Regions from separate parts of the Homo sapiens genome. Here all the other regions are linked to region 3. The links come from fine-mapping of genetic effects on gene expression. A gene starts in region 3. Each other region holds a variant in brackets. All regions are shown on one strand. Distances are between the middles of the regions. Region 1 overlaps GRAMD1C (GRAM domain containing 1C). Region 2 overlaps GRAMD1C (GRAM domain containing 1C). Region 3 holds the start of GRAMD1C (GRAM domain containing 1C).

Region 1 (8,185 bases), 60 kb before region 3:
GCTGCCTCATTTCATAGACGAGAAAACTGAGAATCAAAAAAATGAAAAGATTTGCCTGAGGTTGCTCGGCTGTTTGGTGACCCTAACTAAGATCCAGATCCTGTTTACCATAATCCAAGGCTCTTTGCATTAGAGTAACTGCTTTTCTATCCAAATCCAGAGCCGGCAAGAGGCTACTAAACTTCTCAAGGAGAACAATACAATGGAAATTTTTAACTTTACAGAAAGCTAATAAAATATACATGTGCAACCATGTAAAAAAGCCTATAAAATACTGATGCTAAGCTGAAAAGATATAAATTGGATCAGCATAAGTAGATTACCTAGATGAGTAAAATTTCTGCACATACTTTGAGACTTTCAAAATATTTCCATTTTAAGATTTGCTATAGAATTTCTAAATAACAGCTTTTAAGATATAATCCACACACCACAAAATTCACTTCATGTAAAGTGTACAATTTAGTGGGTTACAGAGTTGGGCAACCATCACCACTAACTAATTGTAGAACATTGTCATCACCCCAACAAAGAAATGCTTTGCAGTCACTTGCAGTCACTCCCCATTCTCCCTTCCTATCAGCTCCTGGCAACTACCATTTACTTTCTGTCTCTATAAACTTACCAGTTCTAGACTCCATTTCACATACATGGAATCATACAATATATGGCCTTTTGTGACTGGCTTTTTTCACTCAGCATAATGTTTGCTATAGAATTTTAATGTATTCTCCTTAATTGTTTTTATTGCTAACAGCCTCAATTTCCACTGGACATAATGCACTTTTACTTGTAGAGGTTAATAAAAATGTCCACTCTTCTAAATGAATCCTCATCAGTCAAAAATAGTCTCTCTGTACTCTTAATTTCTTTATCACATTATCTGTTACTCTGTTATGACTCTTACCATTATCGACCTTGTATTACAATTATTTGCATTCCACGGTAGGCTATATGCTCCTTCCATTAATGTATTCAATATTTATGGAGTGCCAACCACATGCTAAGCACTATGTTAGGGAATTCCTGAGGAAAAATCATGTTATTGTATCCTTCAAAACACCTACCATATAATTTACTTTACTGTCATCTATAAACTCAGAGATTTCACTAGGTACTTCTCCAGATCCTTAATAAACAGGCTTACTAAAACCAGACTTTAAGTCTACCCTAAGTGACATAGCCAACATTTCCTTATATATCTCATATGTGCTTACCTATTTAGCAAACTATTCTCTGTCCCCACCTTTCACCCCATTCCACCACAAAGAACAAAGGGGCAAATGGCAGCCAAAGATAAATTACTAGAAATTCAGAATTAGTCGAATGTAAAATAATTCTGCTTTGATTAATAATTGATAAATTTTGACATTTCAAAACATTTTGCTGTACCTTGGCTGCACATCCTCAATCGACAGTGACAAGTTTTCCATCTCCTCAGCATTTAAACCTAGCTCAGTGCCATAGTTCTGCTGGAGCAGTTGCCAGAATTCCTGTCTAGTCAGGCTCTAAAGTGACAGAAAAATTACACTGAGCATTGGAAAATATAAAATATAATATCACAGTGATTCAAAACATGAGTTTTGAAGTCAAAAATGACCTGTTGTGCAAAGACTAGATATGGGGCTTTGGTAGTTATTTGACCTTTCTGTACCTCCATTTTGCATATCTATAAAAATGAGTTAATAAAAGCTATCTGGCAGAGTTCATAAAAGGAATAGATAAAATGATTTTAAAGTACATATTATAATAACTACTGAAAATGGGAGGTTAAAAATGTTTTAAATTTTCTTTCTGTAAAATAATTTGTTCAGGCCAGGCACAGTGACTCACGCCTGTAATCCCAGCACTTTGGGAGGCTGAGGCAGGCAGATCACGAGGTCAAGAGATCGAGACCATCCTGGCCAACATGGTGAAACCTGGTCTCCACTAAAAAAAAAAAATACAAAAATTGGCTGGGCATGGTGGCGCACACCTATAGTCCCAGCTATTCAGGAGGCTGAGGCAGGAGAATCGATTGAACCCAGGGGGCGGAGGTTGCAGTGAGCCAAGATTGTGCCACTGCACTCCAGCCTGGGTGACAGAGCGAGACTCCATCTCAAAATAATAATAATAATAATAATAATAATTTGTTCATACTTTCTGGTAATTACTGATCTGCAGTTTGTTTGCTTGTTTTTGAGATGGAGTCTCACTGTGCCACCCAGGCTGGAGTGCAGTGGTGCAATCTCAGCTCACTGCAACCTTCACCTCCCAGGTTCAAGCGATTCTCCTACCTCAGCCTCCCGAGTGGCTGGGATTGCAGGTGTGCACCACCACACCCAGCTAATTTTTGTATTTTTAGTAGAGATGGGGTTTCACCATGTTGGCCAGGCTGGTCTGGAACTCCTGACCTCAAGTGATCCACCCTCCTCAGCCTCCCAAAATGCTGATATTATAGGCGTGAGACATGGTGCCTAGCCTCTGATCTTCAGTTTAGTTCTGCAATCTAACCAGTCTACCATGACCACTGAATCACCGTTCAGCCCTGTCAGCTTAGAACCTGTCCTCTTAATCCATAATGTATCTGAATATTTTAACCACTTTAAAAATCTTATATATCAATAAATTTTAAACTATATTTTCCTAATATATAAAATGCAAGAGTCTGGACTTCAGAATTTTTCCTTTGATTTATCTTTAATAAAGTCCAGCTTGTTCTTTCTTTGTAGGCAGAAATTAACAAATTTTTAAATCATCAAATACAACAAACTCACACATTACCTAGCAAAACAAAAACAGTATTATTATGATTTAGGATAATGGCCTCCAGTTGAAAAATAAAATTAAATAACAATATTATGATAACCAATGGTCTGATGTCTAAAAACATTACAGATAGTTAATTACCTGCTTAAGCAAGGTGTAAGGAAGTAGCATAACACTTGAAGCAATTGTTAGTAAGATAATCTCTCTCATTCATTCAACAGATATTTATTTAGTACCTAACAAATGTGCGTTACTGCACTAGATGCTAAGGAGAATAAACATAAAAACATAATGTAGAAGTTAAGCTCCTGGCCCTCAAACAACTTTTAATATAGTTGAAGAGACATGGGATGTTCTTAAGTTATATGACAAGATATAATATGATCATGCACTAAAGTACTGGTACAGTCAACATGATATGAAAGTCTAAAGGAAGGAAATAGGACTGTGGATTAGTGTGATCAGATAAAGCTTCACATTGGAGAAGTGTTTTCAGCTGAGATAAAGGAAGAATATGGGGAAATGGAGAAATGGGAAAAGTTGAAGAGACGGAAACCAACTAAAAATACAGAATAAATACATGAACATAAGTAACATTTGTTTTGAAGTCAGTAGTCTATCAGCCTAACTGAAATAAAAATTTTAAGTTGCGAAATAGTAGAGATAAATATAGACTTGATGGGGCCACAACACAGATGCCTTGAATTCCTCCCCAGGGTTCCCTACAA[T/C]AAATACCACTTCCTTTTTCTTCCTCCTTTTTTCTTCTCTGTCTAGTAACTATGGCATCTTTGTTTGTTATGTTATACTAGATGACCTTCATTACATTTCATGGACCTTCAAAGATATTAAGAACAAAATGTCTGCACTTTAGACCACTAGTTCCCAATCTACTGTGCCCAGATTACCAGGATTCCACAAGAGCAGATGATGAAAATTCAGATATTATCATCAGATATTATCAGATAATATTTCAAAAAGTCAAAAATATCCAATTATCTAAAATAAAGCTATTCAAGTTAAGTGAAATGGCAAGCCTCTGTTTCGAGCTGAACTATATTAACCTACAATGGATAACACAGGCTAATAAATTCTCACTGGAAATAATATATATCTAACAAGTAGTGATGTTTTAATATTTATTATTTAATGTATACCCCTTATTTGGTAGACAAAGTCTTTGGAAGCACAGTGTCCATAGAAAAAAACATAAAAAGGACCATTAGTGGTAGAGAAAATTAAGAAACCACTGTCCTTGATATTAAAGGAACATACACGTTTATTTTCTGACTTCCACTCCAAATGAGTCATTTGTTGTGAACTTTTTTTCACAATAATAACTCACACTACTAATTAACTCATTCTTCCAAAGAAATTATCTTTGAAATATTTTAGTGTCTTACTAGGATGGTTAACTTTATAATGAGAAGCAAGCAATATTTCAATATACTTGTGTAAGACTAATCTTTTATAAAAACTTTTCTTAAATAATAGATATCAAACGATTACAAAGGCAGACTAAAGCAAAAAGATAAACCAATGATGAATACTCAGGCAGCTTCCTAACAGCAAAAGAAATGAAACTTATTAGTAAAATACTAACAACAAAAATGTAATTTTATTTGACTACATAAATGTTTTGAATATTGTATTAAATACTAGCAGGAAGTTAATAGCAGGGTAATCACAATATACTTTTCAAGCTAGTAATTTAATATATATAACAGGTTAATGGAAAATAAAATATAACTCATGTAATTCACCATCTTGTAGATTTGCCAATTTGTTAAAAATGACGTTTTCTATAAAGTTGTCCAGTTTTCATAAAAATGTGGTTATTTACAGCCATGTTGAACATTCAAACATTCAAACATATGCCCAGCCTGATATTCATAATTCTTTCAATAATCAGCAGCAAAAATAATCTACCTTAGTAGTCTTCAAAACAACCTAAATTTTAAACACAAGCTGACCACCCACCTGCAAACCAAGGAGAGTCTCTCCCTTTCAGCCTACAGAGTAGTTTAACAAAATAAAGATGAACCAAGCAGTAATCAGATAAGGCTCAAAAGTCAGAAGATCAATTTCTGGCCCAGAAAGCTGTGTATTCTAAGTATGTTGCCATCTCTATGCACAGCAGAGCTCCAAATATTTAATGACAACTATGTAAAAATAATCACTGCTTCAATCTCTCAGTTTTGCTATGAGAAGCTTTTCTAATGTAGTTTAAAGCACATTATCTGTCACTTCCTGGTTGTAGTACCAGCACTCTTTCCAAGGTTGCAGGTCAGAATGCAGAATTGGAAGTTATACCTCACTCTACAGGTTCCTAAGCCACTCCTACAAGAAGAAGATAGGTAAACAGGTTTTATTAAAGGGACAGTTCCTAATTTTCTCTGTTCTACGCACAGATTAGAAAAAACAAAATGAAAGTAAAAACATCTTGCTTATGCTAAATTGATATAAAACAGCTACTGCAATATTATTTTAATCTCATCTTTAAAATTAACTATATTACAGGTTAATTTTTCTTCTCCATGCTAGTAATTTCTATGCAATTCTGGGAATGTCATGATTACCTCTTCATATACTACTTCTCTAGTACTGACGTAGTATTCCTATCAGACTCTTGCATTAATCCTTTACAACAACCAAAGATTCTATCTCTGAGTGCTGTAAATGTAACGTAAGGAAATAGCAGGAAGAGCCAGCTGTTCAGGTGGAATAATTCTACTAAGCACCCGGCACATCTCTCATCACTGAAAGGTTTAAGGCAACATTTTGATTACTCAATAATTCTTTTCTTTGAAAATATTTCTGACTTTGGTGTATTTAGAATAATTCCCTGGCAGTGATCTGGACTATAATAGACAGTACAGTTTCATCTACTAATTCCTATTTATTTCTCAGAAGAAAATTTTTCTTCTAAATAAAGAAGCAAAATTTGCCCTAATTTCTACCTAGTCATTCCATTTAATTTAGTGATGTGTGTAAACAAATCAAAGGCTACTTGATGAACTCCACGGATCAACCTTTTGAGGGATGCTAAAATCTCATCATTTTATACAATGGCAGAATGAGATAGAGTAGAGTGATGCTGAAAATACTACTCATTCAAATGAAGAAAGCCCACTGTGGGGGCAGCTTCCGCTGTCTAAAAGGCAGTGCTTTTAGCATATTATGGTAGTTCTCATTGACTGAAATTGTAACTAAATATATTTACGATGGTGAACAAATAGCTATGAGAAAATATACATTAACTGTACCACAACTGATATTTATACACATTTTTGCTAAATATAAAAATCCTTATACCAAACCACTGCTATGTAGGGCAGAGCTAAATTTAGTAGGCTTCAGAGGGAAAAACAGAACCTAAAACTGAACCCCAAGAAAGCCCAACACACAAAGAGAAAATAGAGGAGTGGCCAGCAAAAAAAGATTCAGGGAAATACCAGAAAGGTAAGAGAAGATTCCAGAAAGAATGTCATGAAAGGCAAGGGAAGAAAGTATTTCAAAATAGAGGGAGTATACAGTGGTATCTAACGCTGCCGAAAGGTCAAGTAAGATGAGCACAGGATGAGCACATGTATGTCAAATGCAAGCATCCAGAGGAATGATGCAGCTTGCCAAACCAGTTCCCCATCACTTGAGCATGTGTGTGTCATGAGAGTGAGGCAGGGAGAGGAGATACAGTGGGGAAGGAGGAAGCAGCCAGGTCATGAAGAGCCTTGTATGCCATGCCAAAGAATATGGACTTTACATTGTCGAAATATCAAAAGCCACCCAGTGGTTTCATATAGAAAAGTAACAAGTTCAGAATTATGATTTTAAAAGACATGATTTTAAAACACTACTATTTGACATCAACCTCAAAGACAGATCAGGTGTTAAAAAGAGATAAGAAGACATTGGTAATGGTTCAAGCTAGAAATGATGATGACCTTGGTGACCAACTAGACACGGCTGGCTGGCAAAGAGGCAAGAAAAAGGATACATCTAGGTTTCTGGCTTGGGTGACTGGGTAGAAGGCGGTGTAGCTCACTGACCAAGGGAAAATAGATAGAGGAGTTCTGACAATCAAGAAGGTAAAAAAGAGGGAATTATATAATACAAACACTTCTATACTGCCATGCTATTACATAGCAAACGTGACAAATAGTTACCAATTTCATATTCATTTTTTTTCCAGGTAGGTCTGAATGTTGCATTTATTAGATTGATAGCACTACTGGAAAACTTTTGGAATTCCAGTAACTCCAAAATAAAAGAACAAGGGGATTTGATAATGTTGCGCAGGCTAAAGGAGAAAGCTGGATGACACTCCTCCAAAAGGTCTCAGTGGCTGACATAGGCTTTGTAAACTGACCACTATTTAGAGAAAAGCCTCAGAGCTGTCACTATCCTAGAGTTGGCTCAGGGAGGCCAACTTATATAAGCCACACTCACGAGCTGATACTAGCTCAGTTGGAAATACACTAATGCACGGTGGGGAAGATTCCTTTCTGGTGATCAGAAATCTTTTCTTCTATCGCCCAGAACACCTGAATACCTTGGAAGTCAGATTAGCAATCAGAAAGTGGCACAACAAGCATGGAATCAGAGCAAAAGTAGACAGCTTTAAGGGACAATTTACTGTGACCTTGGTGGGGCATGATGATTCATCTCTGTCCCATCTCCATATGGTTCTCTATTGATCAAAGTCTGCCTCTGCAACTCTACTTTTCTGTCCTAAGTCCTAAGTTCTTGGCCTACGTCTGACCAAGTCCTCTTCAGACCGATATATTCTTTCTTTTTATACACTAATACTTTCAATCAACTGTTTTAAACCCTTTTTCCCCAACACACCTGAGGAATAGGACACCCTTCTGTCAACCTTCTACTTAGTGATTCCCAAAATAGAAGCTAGAGTAACATGTATCAGAATTTAGACAGCGTATATCTGTATACATTTAAAAAGCTCCCCTCATTACTTTACCCCTGAATCTAACATATGCTATCTTCTTCTGCCATTTGGGAATAAGATGAAAAGACATTCTGTCTCTTTAAGCCTTAAAATTCAAAATAAGTACAGATTTCTGCTCTATTAGACCCTGGATTGAAATATTCACTTTCAGAATATACTCTTAAATTTCCAAGGAGAGCTAGCTTCCCCATAGCCCCCATGTGCTGGCAAGAGAGACCACTATTACCTTGCTAAGATAAAAACAGTACAGGCCGGGCGTGGTGGCTCACGTCTGTAATCCCAGCACTTTGGGGGGCCAAGGCAGGCAGATCACCTGAGGTCAGGCGTTCGAGACCAGCCTGGCCAACATGGTGAAACCCCGCCTCTATGAAAAATACAAAAATTAGCTGGGTGTGGTGGCAAGCACCTGTAATCCCAGCTACTCAGGAGGCTGAGGCAGGAGAATCGCTTGAACCTAGGAGGCGGAGGTTGCAG
Region 2 (8,185 bases), 89 kb before region 3:
GTCACTGTGTTGCGCAGTCTGATCTCAAACTCGTGGTCTCAAGTGATCCTCCCACCTGGGCCTCTCAAAGTGCTAATATTCCAGGGATGAGCCACCATAACTGGCCTGGTATTCTTTTTAAAAAAATATTTTCTTTGGGAGGTTGAGGCAGGCGGATCATGAGTTCAGGAGTTCGAGACCAGCCCAACCAACATGCTGAAACCCCGTCTCTACTAAAAATACAAAAATTAGCCAGGCATGGTGGCGTGCGCCTGTAATCCCACCTACTCAGGAGGCTGAGACAGGAGAATCGCTTGAACCTGGGAGGCAGAGCTTGCAGTGAGCCAAGGTTATGCCACTGCACTCCAGCCTGGGCAACAGTGAGACTCCGTCTCAAAAAAAAAAAAAAAATTTGAATATATGAAAGAGAAGAAATGAAGTATAATGACCCTCAGGAGCTCATCAACTAGCTTCAGCAACACTAACTCCTCCCCAGTCTTGCTTCCTTTGTCCTCTGTCCCATATTACCTGCCTCTATCACCATCCTCTGCCCAGCTAGATGACTTCTAAAGGAAATCCTAGACATCAATATAATGTCATCCATAATACTTCACTATATCTCTTTATAGATTCTTCCATATATCTCTTTTAAAATAAATATTATTTTCTTTAATACACAGCTGTAATACCATTACTATACATAAAAAATAAACAATTCCTGAAATCTCATAAATACCTTTTAACAAGTGGTTTGTTTGAATTAGGAGTGGGTTGATACGATTCATATGCCTTTTAAGTCTCTTTTAACCTGTAACAGTTTCTCCTCCCTTTTTTCTTGCCACTTGTTTATTGAAACTGTCTTGTAAATTGGTGAACTATAATAGGCATCTTCTCTCTTCCCCCACACATGACTCTTCTGGACACTGACAAAGCAGACGTACCTGCTTTTCAGTGGCAGCAGTGCATTTTCCAGTAAGTGGACTATTAAGGACTATAGTGTAGGTCATCGTTCTCAGCTGATCACCTCCAAGTTCTGCAGTCCAAGGGGTAGATACTACATCTAACAACAACAAACACAAAATGAGTTAGTTCTAGAAACTTAAACAGTATGACATTAAATGAAATCAAAGGAGCTTCTGAATTATTAAAATTTCTATTTTTGACTAGTGCTAACTTCCTTATAACTGGGTATTATAAGTTTAACATTAAAGAAAAGAGAGATTAAATGTTAAGCACTCTCCTTAAATGTGGCATATTCCCCATCTCTGATCCATTTATTTCTAAATTGTTTATTAATATCCTTTTTCCTTTTATTAGAAGATAAAATTAAAAGTTGTTTCATCTGTAAGCTTCCTTTTAAAGTCCTCAGTACCTATGAAGAGAAGTAATGATGCCAGGTTTATCAGAGACGGAACAACACTTTAACATTCCCATCACTGAGGACAAAACTTTAAAATATTTTTGTCATTAAGAAACCATATGACCTTGATATCAACTTACATAGAAATTATGTCAATGTTATGAGAAATCATGTAATGTCAGTGGCTTGTCTGCTAAAATCTTTAGTCACAGTAAGGCAATGGAACATAAATGATTATATAATCTGTCTTAAGAAGACTATAAGATCATATCTCTATGTTTATAGCAAGATCCTGGTAAAAATTCTCTTTTATTTGCTTAGGGACAATATAGTGATTAAATACCCACTTGAACAGAAATATAGTTCTAGAACACAGTGAAGGTCATTTCATGAAGCCAAAAACTTAAAAAGTATAAATAAAAGCATTAAAAACTCTATTCAAAGACATGATTGTATCACCTAATGCCCCAGCACAAATCGACTTAGGCAAGTACTAGTATGTTTGACTGCTATTCACCAATATCCTAAAGCATAGGAGCCTTTATCTAACCCCATTATACTCATCATCAAAGGAAGGAAGTGAGGCTTTAGAATACAGCCAATTTTACTCAACTTCTTTTATATTGCTAGATCTGAGGATTTAATGAGGGATCCTGAAATTGCCTTCTGAGTATCTGGCAAAGTCTTATAACTAAATTAAAAAGGCAAAATCACAAATCATAGAGTCTATCATCCAGGATTTTCTGTAAAATGATTTATTTAGGTATATATAAAAGAAGATATACAACTAATTCTAAATTACTTTTCAGAAGATTACTTTGGTCATATGTCAGCCTGTTTCAGGAAAATGATACAACCAGTCTGTTGTTAATCAGAAACAAAATTTAAAGATGTAATTTAATTCTGCTCTTAAAACTGCACACTACTCAATGAAGCAACTATCAACAAGGATAAATGAAAACTATTTGTCTTCCCATGAATGTTACCCTTGTAGTTTCAGCAATGTTACCAATAAGGTCTACTGAGTATTGCTTACCAGAGCATCACCTAATTAACATCATCTTGAAACAGTCAATCCTCCAATACCTAAGTAAAGCTTATCATAATGTAAAAAAAACCTGGAATGAATTGTAGGAAAAATGGCTAGTACGCAAAAGGACATATGAACCATTTTGATATATAAAAGGCAGGAACTGCAGAATTTTAAAAATCCTTTGATGTAATAAAGTTTTAAAATTGGTGAACGTTCGTGCCCATTAGGATAGCTATTATAAATAATAATCAGTGTTGGCAAGGATGTGGATAAATTGGAAACTTTGTACATTGCTTGTGGAAATGTAAAATGATACAGCCAGTATGGAAAATAGTAGCCACTCTTCAAAAAAGTAAAGATTGAATTACTATATGATGCAGCAATTCCATTCCTAGGCATATACCCAAAAGAACTGGAAGCAGGGACCTGAACAGACAGTTGTATGTCAATGTTCGTGGTGGCATTATTTACAGTAGCTAACATGTGTAAACAACCCAGATGTCATTAATGGATGAACGGATAAACAAAATGTGGTATATACATGCAATGGAATATTATTCAGCTTTAAAAAAGGAATACATTCTGATACATGCCCCAACGAGGATGAACCTGGAAGGCATTATGCTAAGTGTATTAAATCTGTCACAGAAGGACAAACATTGTATTATTCCACTTATGCAAGGCACCTTGAGTAGTCAAATTCACATAGACAGAAAATAGAATGGTGATCATCAACAATGGAAGAAATGGAGCGTTACCATTCAACAGGTATAGCATTTCAGTTTGGAAAGATTAAAAAGTTCTGAAGATGGATGGTGGCAGTGGTTGTACAATAACGTGAATGTACTTAATGCCACTGAACTGTCCACTTAAAAATGGTTAAATGGTAAATTTTATCTTATGTACATTTTGCCATAATTTAAAAATTGATGAATCTAGGCAAGTGGCATATGGATGTTATCATACTATTCATGCAATTTTTCTGAAGCTTTACATATTTTTAAATGTAAGAGTTGGGTAAAAAGACTTAAAACTGAGCTTTAATTAAAGGTAGTGTCGGGGGTTGGGTGGGTCAAGATGGTGAATTAGAAGCTGCTCGTGTGTGCCGCTCTCACAAACAGGAAACAACAGGGTTGATGAACACTGACCCTACTAGCTGATCATCTAAGAAACCATGTCAGAATCCATCCAGGCAGCAAGGGGACACAGAGGGCAGAGAGGAGCAAAGCTGGGCAGCGGCCCCTCTGGGATCAGCACAGAGCCAGGAAAAGCTCCTCAATATGGGAAAGGATGAGTGAGTGAGAGCTCCCTGGAGGATTGTACACAGGCACCTGTGTAAGACTAGTAATGGGAGAATTCCCTGGTTCCCCTGGCCCTACCCCCACACTTCTAAACTGAGGCAGAGAGACACCCAGAGTTTCTGCGGCGACAACTCTCAAGTCCATGGGGACCTCTATAAGCCTTGGACCCTGGAACGGAATGACACCAGTACCATATCCCCAATAGCGGTCACGGTCCTGCCTGGGAGCAGTAAGATTGCTTCACTCCACCTTGCCAGACAAGACTTGGTGCTAGCCTTCAGCCCAACAGTCCCACTTCTGCCTGAACTCAGCTGGCAGCCACAGCTTCCTGTTGCCCCAGGAAACACCTTGACAGCAGGGTAGGTGACTCCCACCCATCCCTGCTGCTGGTAGCCAGACAGGCCATGCCTGCTAGAGTGTCCAGCCCAGTGGTCTCACTTCTGCCTCAACTATGTGGGCAGGCACAACCCCGTGTTCCCCTAGGAAGTACCCAGACAGCAGAATAGGTGACCACATCCAGTCCCACAGCTCCTAGCTGAGCAGGATGTGCAGGCCTGAGTGATGCCCAAGGAGGGAGAAGCCCTCCCTCTAAGATCACTGAGAGAGTGAGATGCCCAGGTTTGCAAGCCAGTGGAGGGGCAGAGTGTAATTCTTGCTGCAGGGTTGACCTGGCAAGCATATGGCCTGTCTGCCAACCATGGCACCTGCTTAAAAGAGCCCCGTGGTCCAAAACACCCAACAAAAGAAACATGGGCACAGAGCCAGTCAAAGGGGGCTCCTCCAAGGCCCAAGAGCCAACCAGGGTAGGGGGTCATCACTTTCCCTTTTCACCCCAGAACACTACTACAAACCATGCCAAAACACAAATGAGTTGTGCTGCAGCGTTAAGAGCCTATCTGCCAGCTAATACTCTTAAACACTACCTACTAGATCACAGCCCAAAACATAACACCAAAATATTCTGCCAGTATACAACACCTGTGAAAACAAAGGTGACACCTGTGAAAACAAAGGGTTCCCACCAGCGCCCCTGCCCCAGCCAGTGCACAAGCACCCCACCATGCCATC[C/A]TGGCTGCTGGCATTCATGAGCAGCACAGATCCTACTGCCACCACCCCAGTGAATTGCTTTGGCCAGCAACCCCATTGGAGTATTGTGGCCAGTGGACCAGGAACACCTCCACCCCTCCAGTGCAACATATTTCTAACCTCGAAGGGCCAGAGAACAAAGCTGGGGACACACAAAACTATGTGTTCTAACTCTAGCCCCCCACAGTTAGAGCACACAGTCCAGGAGTTCTGAGCTGAGCCTGGGCCCCCTGAAATCTTCCAGAAGTGAAGATGGTCAACTGAACCCACCTTATTCCACAATCAAACCCCCACAGGCATCAAAGCAAAAAAACCCCATCCAAAAGACAGCAACTTCAGAGATAAAAGGAACATCAGTCCATACAGATGAGAAAGAACCAGTGCAAGAACTCTAGCAACTCAAAAAGTTGGAGTGTCTTCCTACCTCCAAACAATTATACTAGTTCCCCAGCAATGGTTCTTAACCAGGCTGAAATTACAGACATAGAATTCAGAATATAGATAGGAATGAAAATCATTGAAATTCAGGAGAAACTCAAAACCCAATCCAAGAAATCTAAGGAATACAAAAAAATGACACAAGAGCTGAAAGACAAAATGGCCATTTTAAGAAAGAATCATACTGATCTGAAATTTCATAATACAAATTGCAAGTATTAACAGCAGAATAGACCAAGCTGAGAAAAGAATCTCACAGGGCTGGTTCTCCAAATTAACTGAGACAAAAATAAAGAAAAAAGAATAAAAAAGAACAAAACCTCTGAGAAACATGGGATTATGTAAATAGATCAAATCTATGCCTCACTGGCATCCCTGAAAGACAGGGATAGAAAACAAGCAACTTGGACAACATATTCGAAAATATCATCCACAAAAACTTCCCCAACCTCACTAGAGAGGCCAACATTCAAATGCAGGAAATGCAGAGAACCCCTATGAGATACATACAAGACAACCATCCCCAAGACACTTAGTCATCAGATTCTCCAAGGTCAACGTGAAACAAAAAATATTAAAGGTAGCTAGAGGGAAGGGGCAGGCCACCTACAAAGGGAATCCTATCAGGCTAACAGCAGAAACTCTATATTTGAGGGCTTGAGGGCCTATATTCAACATTCTTAAAGAAACTAAGACCAAGAATTTCATATCCAGCCAAACTAAGTTTCATAAGTGAAGGAGAAATGAGATCATTTTCAGACAAGCAAATGCTAAGGGAATTCGTTACCTGCCTTCCAAGAGGTCTTCAAGGTGGTGCTAAACATGGAAATGAAAGACTGTTAGCAGCCACCACAAAAACACACTTAAGTACATAGACCATTGACACTATAAAGCAACTACACAATCAAGTCTGCAAAATAACCAGCTAACAACACAATGACAAGATAAAATCCACATATATCAATATTAACCTTGAATGTAAACGGGCTTAATGCCCCAATTAAAAGGCAGTGGAAAGTTGGATAAATAAGACCCAACTGTATGCTGGGTTTTGTTTGTTTGTTTGTTTGTTTGTTTGTTTTTTGAGACACAGTCTTGCTCTGTCACCCAGGCTGGAGTGCAGTGGCATGATCTCAGCTCCTGGGTTCAAGCAATTCTGCTGTCTCAGCCTCCCGAGTAGCTGAGACTACAGGCAAGTGCCACCATGCCCGGCTAATTTTTTGTATTCTTAGTAGAGATGCGTTTTCACCATGTTAGCCAGGATGGTCTCGATCTCCTGACCTTGTGATCTGCCTGCCTTGGCCTCCCAAAGTGCTGGGATTACAGGCGTGAGCCCCCGTGCCCAGACAACTGTATGCTGTCTTTAGGAGACCCATCTCACATGCAATGGCATCCATAGGCTCAATGTAAAGGGGTGGAGAAAAATCTGGCAAGCAAATGAAAAACAAAAAAAGCAGAGATTGCTATTCTAATTTCAGACAAAACCAAAACAGACCTTAAACCAACAATGATTTAAAAAGACAAATAAGGGCATTACATAAAGGTAAAGGGTTCAATTCAACATGAAGACTTACCTATCCCAAGTATATATGCAATCAACACAGGAGCATCCAGGCTCATGAAACAAGTTCTTAGAGACCTACAAAGAGACTCAGATAACCACACAATAACAGTGGGAGACTTCAACACCCCATTAACAGTATTAGACAGATCACTGAGTCAAAAAACTAACAAAGATAGTTGTGACCTGAACTTGACATTTAACCAAATGGACCTAACAGACATCTACAGAGCTCTCCACCCCAAAACAGCAGAATATACGTTCTTCTCATTTGCACCTGGCACATACTCTAAAAATCGACCACACAATCAGCCATTAAACAATTCTAAGCAAATGCAAAACACCCAAAATTATATTAACCACACTCTCGGACCACAGTGCAATAACAATAGCAATCAATACTAAGAAGATCACTAAAAATCATACAATTACATGGAAATTAAACAACCTGCTCCTGATGACTTCTGAGTAAACAATGAAATTAAGGCAGAACTCAAGAAATCCTTTGAAACTAATGAGAACAAAGACAGAAAATACCAGAATCTCTGGGACACAGCTAAAGCAGTGTTACAAGTTTATAGTGCTAAACACCCACATGAAACAGTTAGAAAGATCTAGAAATAACAATCTAACATCACACCTAGAGGAACTAGAAAAACAAGAGCAAATCAACCCCAAAGCTAGCAGAAGACAAGAAATAACCAAAATTAGAGCTAAACAGAATGAAATTGATATGTGAAAAACCATACAAAAGATCAATGAAATCATAAGTTGGCTCTTTGAAGAATAAATAAGATTAATAGACCACTAGCTAGACTAATTTAAAAGAGAAGATCCAAATAAACACAATCAGAAATGACAAAAGGAACATTACCACCGACCCCACAGAAAAAAAAAAAAAAACCCCAGAGACTATTATGAACACCTCTATGCACAAAAACTAGAAAACCTAGAAGAAATGGATAAATTTCTGGAAATATAAAACCTCCCAAGATTGAGCCAGGAAGAAATTAAAACCCCGCACAGACAAAGAATGAGTTCCAAAATTGAACCAGTAATTAAAAACCTATCAATCAAAAAAAGCCCAGGACCCGATGGATTCACAGCCAAATTCTACCAGACATGTAAAGAAGAGTTGGTACCACTCCTACTGAAACTATTCAAAAAAATTGAGGAGGAAGAACTTCTCCCTAACTCATTCTATGAGGCCAGCATCATTCAGCATCATTCTGATACCAAAACCTGGCAGAGAAACAACAAAAAAAGGAAACCTTAGGCCAATATGTTTGATGAGTATTGATGCAAAAATCCTCAACAAAATACTAGCAAACTGAATCCAGCAGCACATCAAAAAGCTAATTCACCACAATAAAGTAGGCTTTATCCCTGGAATGCAAGGTTGGTTCAACATATGCAAATCCATAAGT
Region 3 (8,185 bases):
TAATTTACAGGATAAAAGATAAAAGACTGGCTTTTGTGCCTCTACAACATAGGTTCTAAGTTAACTTCAACATCAGCTAAAATGCGGCAATTGGCAAATCTTCATGGCTTTAATCAATATTGGGTCTCAAATTACAGTTATACCTAGAGTTCCCACTAAATTTAAACAAGGTATCCCCTACAATCTTAGGAGTTATTCAACATAAAATAGACAACAAATAGGTATGCCTCACTTTAACCATCAGAACTATACCTTTGCCTAAATACTCCACGATGGTGGTATACATTGCCCTGAAATATCCTATTGTGGCCATGGACACTCTGACACAATTAGTAATAAACTAAATTTAAATCAAGTCTTTAGAGCTTACAAATTGGCTTTCAAAGAAGTGGGACAACAGGCTGGGTATGTTGGCTCACACGTATAATCCCAACATTTTGGGAGACTGAGGCAGGAGGATCACTTCAGGCCAAGAGTATGGAGAACAAGCTGGGCAATACAGCAAGGCCCCCTCTCTACAAAAATTTAAAGATTAGCCTGGCATAGTGGTACACACATGTAGTCCTAGCTACTTGGGAGGCTGAGGTGGGAGGACTGCCAGAGTCCAAGAGTTGGAGATCACAGTAAGTTGTGATTGCACCATTGTGCTTCAGCCCAGGTGACAGAGCAAGACTCTGTCTCAAAATAAACAAAACAGTGAGACCCTATGGACCACCACTCTCAATGCCCAGTTAAAATTATACAACCCAATATAAAACAAAACAGGGCCTTCAAGGACTAAAACTTGTTATGTAAGACCTACTTCAGCCAGGCACGGTGGCTCACGCCATGCTGTAATCTCAGCACTTTGGGAGGGAAAGCCAGGTGGATCACGAGGTCAGGAGTTCAAGACCAGCCTGACCAACATGGTAAAACCCCATCTCAACTAAAACAAAATACAAAAATTAGCTGGGCGTGGTGGTACGTGCCTGTAATCCCAGCTACTTGGGAGGCTGAGGCAGGAGAATTGCTTGAACCCGGGAGGTGGAGGTTGCGGTGAGCTGAGATTGTGCCACTGCACTCCAGCCTGGGCGACAGAGCAAGACTCTGTCTCGCAAAAAAAAAAAAAAAAGAAAGAAAGAAAGAAGTACTTTGTGAAAGTAATTATCCCTACTGCTTCTCCATTTAACAGCCCAATTTGGCCTGTTAAATTTGGTAAGAATGAATGGTACCTCATGGTTCATTACTGCATCCTCGATGATGTCATTTTACCCAGGAAGGCCCCTATACTCAACATTGTTGAAATTACTGACTATCCAGTCCACAACTAGTAAATATTTTGCTGTGATAGATTTGGCTAATATGTTCTGTTCAGTGTCTCTTTCAACACCTCCTCAGCCATAGTTGGTCTTCACCTCCAGAGAGACATAACATCTCTTTACCAGGCTAACCATAGAGTACGCAGTCTTGCCATCATACACAGCCTTTACAGGAAAGATCTTAACTGCATCAAATTTTCTCCAGGAGCACAAGTATAACATTCCATTGATGACATCCTCCCCTGAGGACAGTCTTTTGACATACTCACAAAGGAGCTCACAAAAGGAGGATGGGCTATTGTGCCACACATAGTGTAAGGCCTACCACCTTGGTTAAATTTCTGAAAATAATTTGGTCTCTGTCACCCAGGCTGGAGTGCAATGGCACAAACAGGGGTCACTGCAGTCTCAACCTCCTGTGCTCAAGTGATCTTCCTATCTCAGCCTCCCAAATAGCTAGGACCACAGGCGCCACACAACCATGCCCAGTTAATTTTTCTTTCTTTTTTTTTTTTATTTTGGTAGATACAGGGTCTTGCTTTGTTGCCCAGGCTGGTCTCAAATTCCTGTCCTCAAGCGATACTTCTTTCTGCCTTGGCCTCCCAAAGTGCTAGAATTACAGGCATGAGCCACTGCACTGGGCCACAATGGCTGACTTAAATTCAAATTCAAATTCAAATGGTGCAGGTCAGTCATCAAACATCAAGGGTGAAAAAAAGACCTGGAGCCAGTTTTTTCCTGAGGCTCTCTTAAGCCATTTTAGTGCTGCTTGAGAGGCCTGCCTTGCTCTCCCTGGAGACCTTAATTATGTAAGTAAAAGACTTTTTCAGGGCCGGGCGCGGTGGTGGCTCAAGCCTGTTATCCCAGTACTTTGGGAGGCCGAGGCGGGCGGATCATGAGGTCAGGAGTTCAAGACCATCCTGGCTAACACGGTGAAACCCCGTCTCTACTAAAAACACAAAAAATTAGCCGGGCGTGGTGGCGGGCGCCTGTAGTTCCAGCTACTGGGGAGTCTGAGGCAGAAGAATGGCGTGAACCCGGGAGGCAGAGCTTGCAGTGAGCCGAGATTGCGCCACTGCACTCCAACCTCAGGGTGTGTGTGTGGCATCATCAGTTTCTACTCCAACCTCATGGTGTGTGTGTGGCATCATCAGTTTCTACACCTGAATCAAATTTGGGATGGGGGTCCATTCTGGCTTTCTGGGGTGGCTACAGTAGATTCCTGTCTCTCTGACTTATTAGCTGTGTGGTCCTTAGCAAAGTCAATCTCTGTACATCTGTTCCTTAACTCTACAATAGAGGAAATAATTTTATCTCTAGTCTAGACAATAAGCTTATTGAGAGCAGGGATCATGTCTGTGTTAATCACCATCTAATCCCGAACACCCAGTGCCAGGGACATAACTGAATCAGTGACTGATTGGGTTCATGAATATCCAGCTTGACTATTTCATAGTAATGTTTTTCAAATCAAGTGAAATAACACTCATTCATCTGTTCATTCAACAATTATTTGTGTACCTCCACTAATCTGTAAACTATAACGCTCTTCAGAAGATATAGCACTGACCGCAGTTCTCTAAAAGTAAAATACATACACACAAACCAATGTAGAAGGAGGATGGTGTTCAGAAACGCAGGCGCCCGTCCAACAAAAGCGGGGTTTCATCCTGAATATTAATAAGCACGCTTTCCGTTTTGTCAAATAAGGTAGTAAACAAATAAAACTAGACTAGTTGAAATCAAAAACTTGGCTGACAGCACAGTGATTTAAACTATCCGGACCTTTACAACAGGGCTGAGAATGAAAGGAAGGGGGCAAGGCTGGAAAAAACGTTGACAGTGGGTCAGAATCACGACCATGGGGCCTGACCCAAGGGGGCCTGGGGCTGAGACATCCGCACCAGGACATTTCGGGACCAAATTCAAGCCCTCAACGCCCACAGGGAAGCAAATGTCCCCACCACCGCCCGTAGGGAAAGGGCTCGCAGAGGCACAGGAAACCGTTTCCTCGGTAACAACTTTCCGTATTACTCCAAAGAGCACGAAGAAAAGGGAAGGGAGGGATTAACTGTAATCTGAGAAGGTTCAAGCAATCACCGTGAGAAAAAGTAGGCTAAAGCCACAGATGGGAACCTGCCCCAGCGAGGCCCGCGGCTTACCTGACGGACAGTCGGAGCGCCCTCCATCGCGGCTCCCTCCGCCGCCGCGGCACCGCCCCGCGCGCACCGCACCGCACCGCCCCGCGCCCACCTCCAGCGCGCGCTGCGAGTTACAGGCTCCGCGCGCCTCCTCCGCCGGCCCTCCGAGTACTTCCAGCCGCAGCTCCTTGCGCCCTCTGGCGGCCGTGAAGGATTCCTGACGATGGGTGTTACCGGGTTAGCCTGAAGGCTTGTCTTTCTAGGGGTCACAATGAGACTTCCCTATTCCCAACCTCAAACTACTGTGCCTCCCAGGAAATGGCATACCCTGCCCCAATGTGCGAAAAGGTGAATTGCTCGGAAACTTTTTTTTTTTTTTTTTGAGACGGAGTTTCGCTCTCATTCCTCAGGCTGGATGGAGTGCCAAGGCCCCGTCTCGGCTAACTGCAACCTCCGCCTCCCAGTTCAAGCGATTCTCCTGCCTCAGCCTCCCGAGTAGCTGTGGTTACAGGCGCCTGCCACCACGCCCGGATAATTTTTGTATTTTTAGTAGAGACAAGGTTTCACCATGTGGGTCAGGCTGGTCTCGAACTCCCCACCTCAGGCAATCCGCTGGCCTTGGCCTCCCAAAGTGCTGGGATTACAGGCGTCAGCCACCGCCCCCGGCCAGGAAACTCTTGTTCCTTCCAATAAAGGATTGAAGTTACTGATTAACTGCTGTACGTATTGCAGATTCTTGGTTCTGTAAACCAAAAATAAAATGCCGAGGCCCACCCCCAGCCATCTAAATGGACCCCTCCTCTTGGCCAAGAGCGTTCCAAATTTAACCTGAAAATCTAGTTCAGGCCATGATGAAAGAGGGGATTGGACATGCCTCATTAACATCAACACAGACCTTAAGTCTGAGAAGAAATATTTATCATCTATTGCCTCGGACACCTGCTACTTGGAGGCTGCATCTGCATGATAAAACCTTGGTATCCACAACCCCTTATCCTAACCCAGACATTCCTTTCTACTGATAATAACTCTTTTTTCTCTTTTTCTTTTGAGACAGGTTCTGGCTCTATTAGACCAGCTGGAGTGCGGTGGCGCAATCTCTGCTCACTGCAACCTCCACCTCCCGGACTCAACCAATCCTCCCACCTCAGCCTCTCGAGTAGCTGGGACTACTGGCGTGTGCCACCATGCTTAACTACTTTGTTTGTTTGTTTGTTTGTTTGTTTGTTTGTTTTTTGAGACAGGGTTTCGCCATGTTGCCCAGACTGGTCTCGAACTCCTGGACTCAAGCAGTCTGCCCCCTTCGGCCTCCCAAAGTGCTGGGATTACACGTGCAAGCCACAGCTCCCAGTCAATAATAACGCTTTCAACCAATTGCAAATCAGAAAATTTTTTTATGTACCAATGACCTGAAAGTTCCTCCTTCTCGCCTTGGAGCTGTCTCCCCTTCCAGATTGAAACAATGTAAATCTTACATGTATTGATTGATGTATTAGGTCTGCCCAAAATATATAAAAGCAAGCTGTACCCCAACCACCTTGGACACATGTCATTGGGACTTCCTGAGACTGTGTCACAGGTGTGTCCTTAACCTTCACAAAATAAATTTTCTAAATTAACTGAGGCCTGTCTCAGATATTTGGGGTTCAGAGTTCCCAACCAAACAGCTATAAAAAAGACATTCTAAGCCAGGCACAGTGGCTAACTCATGTAATTCCAGCACTTTGGGAGACTAAGGTGGGAGGGTTGCTTGTGTCCAGGAGTTCAAGACCAGCCTGGGCAAAACAGGGGGGCCCCATCTCCAGAAAAGAGAGACAGAGAGAGAGAAAGAAAGAGAGAGAGAGGGAAGGAAGGAAGGAAGGAAAGAAGGAAGGAAGGGAGGGAGGGAAGACATTCTAGAACAATTGAGGAATAGTGAATATGAAATGGCTATTAGAGTTGATGTTACAGGATAATTAATGATTTATGTATACATTTATGGATATTCATTTATGGATAATTAATAATTTTTGGCAGCTGGGCGTGGTGGCTCAAGCCTGTAATCCCAGCACTTTGGGAGGCTGAGGTGGGAGGATCACCTGAGGTCAGGAGTTTGAGACCAACCTGGCCAACATGGTGAAACCCTGTCTCTACTAAAAATACAAAAATTAGTCGGGCGTGATGGTGAGCACCTGTAATCTCAGCTACTTGGGAGGCTGAGGCAGGAGAATCGCTTGAACCTGGAAAGTGGAGGCTGCAGGGAGCCGAGATCAGGCCATTGCACTCCAGCCTGGGCAAGAAGAGTGAAACTCCGTCTCAAATAATAATAATAAATAATAATAATAATAATAACTTGTGGCTATGTTGCAGGGTGTCTTTAATATTAGAAAACTCACACTAAAATATTTAGGAGTTCCCTGTTATCCATGGGGATGTAAAAAAAAAAAAGTATTTAGGAGTGAAGTAGCACCATGTCTGCAACTTGCTTCCAAATGCTTCCACGAAGATGAATACACAGAGAAAACAAAATAGCGAAACGTTAATTATTGGACCTAAGTGGAGGGTATACTACTATTCAGTTATTCTTTTACTGTTTACATATATTTAAAAATCATAATGTAAAGTTGAAGAGATGGAAAGGAGTTGAATCCAGTTCCACAAAATGTCAGACACTGAGTGTATTTCTTTTTTGTTTTGTTTTGTTTTTGTTTTTTTGAGACAGAGTCTCGTTCTGTCCCCCAGACTGGAGTGCAGTGGCACAATCTTGACTCACTGTAACCTCTGCCTCCCAGGTTTAAGCAATTCTCCTGCCTCAGCCTCCTGAGTAGCTGGGACTACAGGCGCCCACCACCATGCCCGGCTAATTTTTGTATTTTTAGTAGAGATGGGCTTTCACCATGTTGGCCAGGCTGGTCTCAAATTCCTGGCCTCAAGTGATCCACCCGCCACAACCTCCCAAAGTGCTGAGATTACAGGCGTGAGCCACTGCACCTGGCCATGAGCATATTTCTTAAATATATATGACATACTAAAGGACAAATTACTTAATAAGATAATCAGTAAAAGACAGGTTTCCATCCTCATTCTGCAAAACTTTGCATAAACTGTGTTCTGTTAAACATAAAAAACGTCACAGAACACTAATATTAAGCAAGGCCACTGTATGATCATGATAGAGTAAGACAAAAAGAAGGCCACTGGGTAATCATGTCTAAACACAGACAAAAATGTGAACATCGTTCGAAACACAGAAATGACTATGTCCCTATGCTGACTAATATGACTGACTGCTGCCTTTTTCCCAATAACAGCTTTAGCTTCACTTTATTCCACCTACCTTCTAGATAAGATGTATTAAGATACCCAATCAGAATAACCACATCTTATTGACAATATGTAATCTGGGACAAAGCTCCACTTCTTGAATCCTCCTCGCAAAATCACTGAACACAAACCCAAATCCTGTAGTAAGACCTTTCTAACACCCTTTCACTGAGATGTCCTCATGGTTCTCCATGGTATTTTTTCACCCTCATTGCAATGAGTCAATAAACACAATGTTGTCTAACTACAGCTATGGTTCTCCTGGACTTTGGCTGAAGAGCATTGATATATTTTGCAGTGAAATAGAACATAAGGTGAAAGTGAATATGGAAGAAAAGTTGTTAGAAGTTTGAAGAGAAAGGAGAAATTATGAAATACTTAGGAGCACAGGTGAATGAACTGACTAATGTTTTAGGAAAACAGTAAAACAGTAGCATTGCTGGGCAACACAAATGCCTCATTGAGATTAATGGTCATGTATTTAAAGTGAGATCACACTAATATGTAAACAGCTCCCAGAAATCCCTGCTTACCACAATCAGGGGAATGCTTAATTAGGAGATTAATGGTCATGTATTTAAAGTGAGATCACACTAATATGTAAACAGCTCCCAGAAAAACATATGGAAAAACCATAGTCAAGTTAAAATTGTTAAAGTATATGTCAGAAAGTTCATGGAAAAGGAAATATCAGTGTCTTTTTTTTTTTTTTTTTGAGACGGAGTTTCACTTTTGTCACCAGGCTAGAGTGCAATGGCACGACCTCAGTTCACTGCAAACTCCACCTCCTGTGTTCAAGCGATTCTCCTGTCCCAGCCTCTGGAGTAGCTGGGATAACAGGTGCCCACCACCACGCCCAGCTAATTTTTTTTTTTTTTTTTTTAGTAGAGACAGAGTTTCACCATGCTGATCAGGCTCGTCTCGAACTCCTGACCTCATGATCCACCCTCCTTGGGCTTCCAAAGTGCTGGGATTACAGGTGTAAGCCACCGTGCCTGGGCAAATGTCTCTTAAAAATATAAAAGATCCTCAGTTTCACTCAGAATAGCATAGAAATTAAAACCACACTGAAATACTATTTTTCACTTACTAGTTTGACAAAAAGTACAGAAATTTGAAAACGCATTCTGCTGACAAGACCGTGGGGATACAGGACTCTTATAATGGAAGTGTAGAGGCTGGGTGCGGTGGCTCATGCCTGTAATCCCAGCACTTCAGGAGACCAAGGCAGGTGGATCCTTTGAGGTCAGGAGTTCGAGACCAGCCTGACCATCATGGTGAAACCCTGTCTCTACTAAAATGCAAAAATTAGCCAGGCGTGGTGGCAGGCGCCTGTAATCCCAGCTACTTGGGAGGCTGAGGCAGGAAAATCGCTTGAACCCAGGAGGCGGAAGTTGCAGTGAGCCAAGATTGCACCACTACACTCCAGCCTGGGTGACAGGG

Evidence for each region.
Region 1: its variant is fine-mapped to the expression of GRAMD1C in lung (TOPMed, PIP above 0.99). The same link has a PIP of 0.9 or more in nasal epithelium.
Region 2: its variant is fine-mapped to the expression of GRAMD1C in atrial appendage (GTEx, PIP above 0.99).

Annotation. Positions count from the first base shown.
Region 1 is chr3:113,894,354-113,902,538 of GRCh38, reverse strand. GRAMD1C (GRAM domain containing 1C) reads right to left here. Exons shown (of 18, transcript NM_017577.5): 7 at 1,393-1,508. Among named protein-coding and RNA genes, the nearest start is that of ZDHHC23, 50 kb to the left of the region's middle. The variant T/C (reference allele first, on the strand shown) is at 3,477.
Region 2 is chr3:113,923,568-113,931,752 of GRCh38, reverse strand. It overlaps GRAMD1C (GRAM domain containing 1C), which reads right to left. Exons shown (of 18, transcript NM_017577.5): 11 at 921-1,039. Among named protein-coding and RNA genes, the nearest start is that of ZDHHC23, 20 kb to the left of the region's middle. The variant C/A (reference allele first, on the strand shown) is at 4,742.
Region 3 is chr3:113,834,212-113,842,396 of GRCh38, reverse strand. It overlaps GRAMD1C (GRAM domain containing 1C), which reads right to left and starts at 3,609. Exons shown (of 18, transcript NM_017577.5): 1 at 3,461-3,609. The coding sequence starts at 3,487. RefSeq lists a silencer at 3,397-3,596.